2 separate regions of the Homo sapiens genome follow, and region 1 is linked to region 2. The links come from fine-mapping of genetic effects on gene expression. A gene starts in region 2. The other region holds a variant in brackets. All regions are shown on one strand. Distances are from middle to middle. Region 1 overlaps UBE2E1 (ubiquitin conjugating enzyme E2 E1). Region 2 holds the start of RPL15 (ribosomal protein L15).

Evidence for each region. PIP is the estimated chance that this variant, and not a neighbour inherited with it, causes the effect.
Region 1: its variant is the best candidate, but not a certain one, in a credible set for the expression of RPL15 in whole blood (INTERVAL, PIP 0.51).

Annotation. Positions count from the first base shown.
Region 1 is chr3:23,850,195-23,853,103 of GRCh38, reverse strand. All of the region lies in intron 3 of UBE2E1 (ubiquitin conjugating enzyme E2 E1), which reads right to left. Among named protein-coding and RNA genes, the nearest start is that of UBE2E1-AS1, 45 kb to the right of the region's middle. The variant A/G (reference allele first, on the strand shown) is at 1,279.
Region 2 is chr3:23,915,355-23,918,263 of GRCh38, reverse strand. It overlaps RPL15 (ribosomal protein L15), which reads right to left and starts at 1,132. Exons shown (of 4, transcript NM_002948.5): 1 at 1,091-1,132; 2 at 233-414. The coding sequence starts at 404. It overlaps NKIRAS1 (NFKB inhibitor interacting Ras like 1), which reads left to right and starts at 1,274. Exons shown (of 5, transcript NM_020345.4): 1 at 1,274-1,480. RefSeq lists enhancers at 391-490, 420-1,619, 871-1,670.

The DNA.
Region 1 (2,909 bases), 65 kb after region 2:
CTGACCAACAAAAAATAAAATTAGCTGGGTGTGGTGCCGCATGCCTGTAATCCCAGCTACTTGGGAGGCTGAGGCAGGAGAATCACTTGAACTCAGGAGGCGTAAGTTGTGGTGAGCCGAGATCATGCCATTGCATTCCAGCCTGGGTAACAAGAGTGAAACTCCATCTCAAAACAAAAAAAAAAACAAAACAAAATAAGGCTGGGCATGGTGGCTCATGCCCATAATCCTAGCACTCTGGGACGCCAAGGTGGGAGGATCACTTGAACCCAGGAGTTCGTGACCAGCCTGGGCAACATGGTGAGACCCCTGCTCTACAAAAATACAAAAACCTAGCTGGGTGTGCTGGGTGCAGTGGCACGTGCCTGTAAGTCCCAGCTACTGGGGAGGCTGAGGTGGGAGGATCGCTTGAGCCCAGAAGGTCATGGCTGCACTGAGTTGAGATTGCACCACTGCACTCCAGTCTGGATGACAAAGTGAGACCCTGTCTCAAAAAAAGAAAAAAGAGAAATAAAAAGTATTCAGATTGGAAAAGAAGTAACACGATCTGTATTTGCAGATGACATGATCTTGTAGAGAGAAAACTCAAATCCACTAAAAAGCTCTTAGGACCAATAAACAAGCTGAACAAAGCTGTAGGATACAAAATTAATACACAAAAACCAACCATCGCTATATACTACCCGTGAGTAATCAGAAAATGTAATTTTTAAAAATTCAAATTTACAATAGTATCTGAGTAAAATACATAAGAATAAATTTAACATAAGCATAAAATATGTACACTGCAGACTAAAAACCATCATTGAAATAAATTAAGGGAAATATAAATAACTGAAAAGACATTTAATGTTCATGAATCATGTGTTAGTCCATTTTGTGTTGCTATAAAGGAGTATCTAAGGCTAGGTAATTTATAAAGAAAAAAGGTTTATTTAGCTCATGGTTCTCCAGGTTGTACAAGAAGCATAGTGCCAGCATCTGCTTCTGGTGAGGCCTCAGGAAGCTTCCACTCATGGCAGAAGATGAAGGGAGAGCAGGCATGTGACATGACAGGAAAGGGAGCATGAGAGAGTGGGGAGGTCCCAGACATTGTTTAAACAATGAGATCTTGCATGAACAAAGCAAGTGAAAACTCACTCATTACCGTGAGAGCAGCACCAAGCCATACATGAAGGGTCTGTCCCTGTGACCCAAACACCTCCCACCAGGCCCCACCTCCAATGCTGGGGATCACATTTCAACACAGGATTTGGAGGGGACAAACATCCAAACTGT[A/G]CAGATCTGAATTTTAATTTTTTTTTTATTTTTTAGAGACAGGGTCTCTGTCACCCAGGCTGAAGTGCAGTGGTGCAATCACTGCAGCCTCGAACTCCTGGGCTCAACTGATCTTCCCACCTCAGCCTCTTGACTAGCTGGCACTACAGATGTGCACCACCATGGCTGGCTTATTTTATTCTTTATAGAGAAGAGGGTCTCACTTTGTTAATCAGGCTCATCTCAAACTCCTGGCCTCAAGTGATCTTTCCACCTTGGTCTCTCAAAGTGCTGGGAATATAGTAGGCATGAGCCACTGTACCCAGCCTAAAATTAATATGGGAATACTTCTCAAACTGGTGTACAGATTCAACATAAACCCTGTAAAAACCCCAGCTGGACTGTTTAAAAAAAAACAAAATGAAAAACAGAAATTGACAAGCGGATCCTAAAATTCATATGGAAATGCAAGGAACATAGAATAGCCAAACAATCTTTAAAAAGAACGAAGCTAGAGGACTTCCTTCTCAATTTCAAAACTTACTATGAAGCCACAGAAATTAAGACATCGTAGTACCAGCAAAAGGATAGATACAAAGATCAATGGAACCTAATTAAGAGCCCAGAAATAAACTCTTACATTTACAGGTAAATTGATTTTTGACAAGAGTGCCAAATCAGCTCAATGGAGACAGAATAGTCTTTTTTATCAAATGGTGTTGGGAACAAAAGAATAGCCACAAACAAAAAAATGAAACTGAACCCTTCTTCACACCACACACAAAAATTAACTCAAAATGGATTACTGATCCAAATCGAAAAACTAAAAGTATGAAACTCTTAGAAGAAAATATAGGAATAGGCTGGGCATGGTGGCTCATGCCTGTAATCCCAGCACTTTGGGAGGCTGAGGCAGGTAAACTGCTTGGGCCCAGGAATTCAAGACCAATCTGGGCAACGGGCAACACGGCAAAACCCTGTCTCTTAAAAAAAAAAAAAAAAAAAAAAAGCTGGGTGTGGTGGCGCACATCTGTAGTCCCTGCTACTGGAGAGGCTGAGGTGGGAGGACTGCTTGAGCCTGAGGCTGCAGACAGCCATGATCATGCCACAGCTCTGGCATGGGTGACAGAAAGAGACCCTATCTCAAAAAAAAAAAAAAAAAAAACAATCAGGTGTGCCGGATGCAGTGGTGCATGCATGTAGTCCCAGCTACTTGGCTGAGGCAGGACCATCACCTGAGCTCAGGAGTTTGAGGCTGCAGTGAGCTAGGATTGCACCACTGCTCTGGTGACTGAACAAGACCCTATCTCAAAAAAAAATAATAATAATAATAAAGAGGAGTAGATAATGGTTTCTTAAATACAATTCCAAAACACATGCAACAAAAGAAAAATAGGTAAACTGGACTTCATTGAAACCACAAACTTTTGTACTGCAAGCAATACCATCAAGAAAATAAAAAGACAACCCACAGACAGGGTAGAAAACACTTGTAAATCATGTATCTAATAAAGTACTTTTATCTGGAATAAAAATAATTTTTAATGGCCAGGCACAGTGGCTCACACGTGTAATCCCAGCACTTTGGGAGGCTGAGGCAGGAGAATCACTTGAGGCCAGGAGTTCAATACCAGCCTGGGCAATATAGTGAA
Region 2 (2,909 bases):
GGAGGCACACTGTTTATTTTGCTTTAGTCTGAACTCATTCAGATTTGTAACCTTTGACACACTTGCCACTTTAGACAACAGTGCATACAGTAACTGACCAGTGTTGCTAGCTTTTTTCTGCCAAAGCCCTATGCGAAGAAAGACACTGAGGCAGCAGTGTCTTCCTAACAGCTGGTTTCCAACTTTTCTCGAATATAATTTTATCCAAGCATCCACGCAGTCGATCACGTACCTTGCTTGGCCTTGTAGCCCAGTCGGCGCGCTTTATCAGGCCGGGTGGGGCGGGGAGCCCTGTGGAGAGCAGAGAGCTGGCGGTACTGCCAGCAGCGGACCCTCAGAAGAAAGCGCATGACATCAGACTGCTTCTTTCTCCATAGCTCCTGGATGTACTTGTATGCACCCATCTTGGCTTACCTGTGAAATCAAACTGTGTATTAAATATCATCCGCTTTAAGTACAATAAGACGACTGTATCCGTCCATCTTAGTTCCCCAACAAAAACAAGGAAACCGCCGGGAATGAAAATGGCTCTGCACCAACTGCCGGGGACAGCTAGCCCAACCCCCACCACTGCGCCCACGGAGCCGCGTTCAGTCACTTCCGCAACCCCAGCACAGAGCGGTGCTCGGCACGTTTTGGTGGGGCGAATTAACAGAACCAGAACTGAGCACCAAGGGGGCGGGTGGCTGCGGCAGGCGGCGTCCCCAAGGAGGACCTGAAAGGAGATGCCGCTGACATCACAGGACAAGGTACTGCTGCGGCCACCGAGGATTAACTCTCGAGGAAAATGCATCTACCCCACCCAACCAGCAGCCTCACTTTAGGCTGCCTTGTCCCGGGCGCCCCATTCGTCAGCCCCACGCCTCCTCCAGGATCCGGGCCCAGCTCGAATTCGCGCCGCCATCACATCTTCGCTCAACCCGCCCCGGGGGCCGCCTCTCCACCCCTTTGCTGTCCCGCATCCTGACCAAACTCTGGCCGCACAGGAGGGAGACCTATCTCCGAGGACGCAGGGTCCCCGGACCTGGATGGCTGAAGAGGAAGACGATCAAAGGCGGATGGAAGAGCAAAGATCCTCAACGCAGCCTACCTGATGGCTGCCGCCAGACGGAAAGGAAAGAGCTGTACTCCCACAATGCCTTTTGGGCTCCTCCCCCACCTCAGCCACCCTCTTTCCGGTGGAAAGCTGCGGCCTCCCAGAGCGTCATGGGACATGTAGTTCCGGCATCGCGCCTGGTGGCGGAGTTCTGCCGAGTGGGGCGCCGCGGCCGCTATTGTCCCGCCCCCTGCTCCGCAAGATTCGAGCCTGAGCGGCCTGGGCGTCTCGAGAGGTGAGAGAGTTGGCGGCGAGGTCTCGGCGGCTAAGCGAGCGTCGGCGACTGTCTCTCCGCGAGAGGAGGCAAGTTGGGGTCCAGGCTCCAAAGCCGGTGGCCGCGTACCGCGGTGGAGCCGCTGTCTTTGAGGTCTGAGGAGAGAACAGGTTTGTTTCACGCACCGCGGGCTCTCCCCCTGCGGAGTCTCTGCGTCTCCGCGTCTCCGCGCTGCGCTGTCCCTCTCTGGCCACCGCACGACGGGCGCAGAAATCTGGGCCCCAGAGCTGCGCTGAGAGATCCCCCGACGCTTCCCCAGCCTCCCAGGGAGGCCTTCGCGGAGTCGGGGCGTCGCGGGTCGGGGCGCTCGCTGTGTCCCTTCAGCTCCAGACTGCGTGAAGCTCCTCCAGCAGGCCCCAGCGCCCAGGGATTTTGTCCTAAAAAAGGGTCATGGAGTGGGTGGATTGCGGGCGGCCCGGCGCTTTTTCTGCATACGGATTTCGTCCCAAATTTGCTAACATGAGAACCACAGTTTTTCAGAAGAGCAGAATGTTTATTTGCCAAGACCTGTTTGGCAGGTGTGAATGTTTTAGAGAAGAAATGCCGAGAAAATGCTGGCATTTTGCGTTGCGGGTTTTTTTTTAAATTGAGAAATAGGTTACTGGCTTACTTTGTTTCTCCAGAATATTTTCACTTGGCTTTAATTTAAGTCATGTGGCTTTAATTTCCTTCCAGATTATGCGTTCAGATGTGGCAAAGGCTTAAGAGAATCATTATCTCTTAATCGTAGCGGTTTTGATTATCTTTTTTCCCACATCATATTTTTCTTTCTTTCTTTTTAAATCACAGCTTTACGTTTTTAAGAGTCTCTATCTGGTTCATTGATTGATTCAACAAATATTTATTAAGTGTCTAATATGTGCCAGGCATAGTTGCTGGGGATGCAGCAGGAAACAACGCAGAATTTTTGGCCTTCTTGGAAATGGGCAGTAAGCAGAAGTAAGCTGTGTTTTGGGTTTGGTGGTAAATGCTAAGGAAAAAAGATAAGGGGAGGGAAGTGATGAGGGAGTGTTAGCGGCTGAGGGTTGCAATTTGGAATGGAGTGTCCAGGTTAAGTCTTTGAGAGAAGGTAACATTTAAGAAAGGACTTCAAGGATAGGAGTCTGGGAGTAAGAGTAGGGGTCTGATTCAGGCAGAGGGAGAAGAGCCATGACTGGAGCATGCAAGATTAATAGAGGAACAGCAGGGAAGCAGTGTGGCTGAAATTCACAGTAGGGGAAAGTGGGAAATGACGTCGGAGAGGTGAAGGTTCTCACATGGACTTTGGATTTCATTGGCAGATTTTGAACAGAAGGATGACTTCATATGGCGTACATTTTAAAAAGATAACTCGGATTGCTCCTTTTGAGGCTAAAAGGAGAGAAAAAATGGAAGCAGAGAGACTGCTTAGGAAATTGTGTTAGTCTTCCATTGCTCCTGTAACAAATTTCAGCAACTTTGTTGGTTAATAATACAAATTTACCGTCTTTTAGTTTGTACATCAGACTAGGTCTGTAAATCTGTAAATATCACCAAGCTAAAACCAAAGTCAGTAGGGCT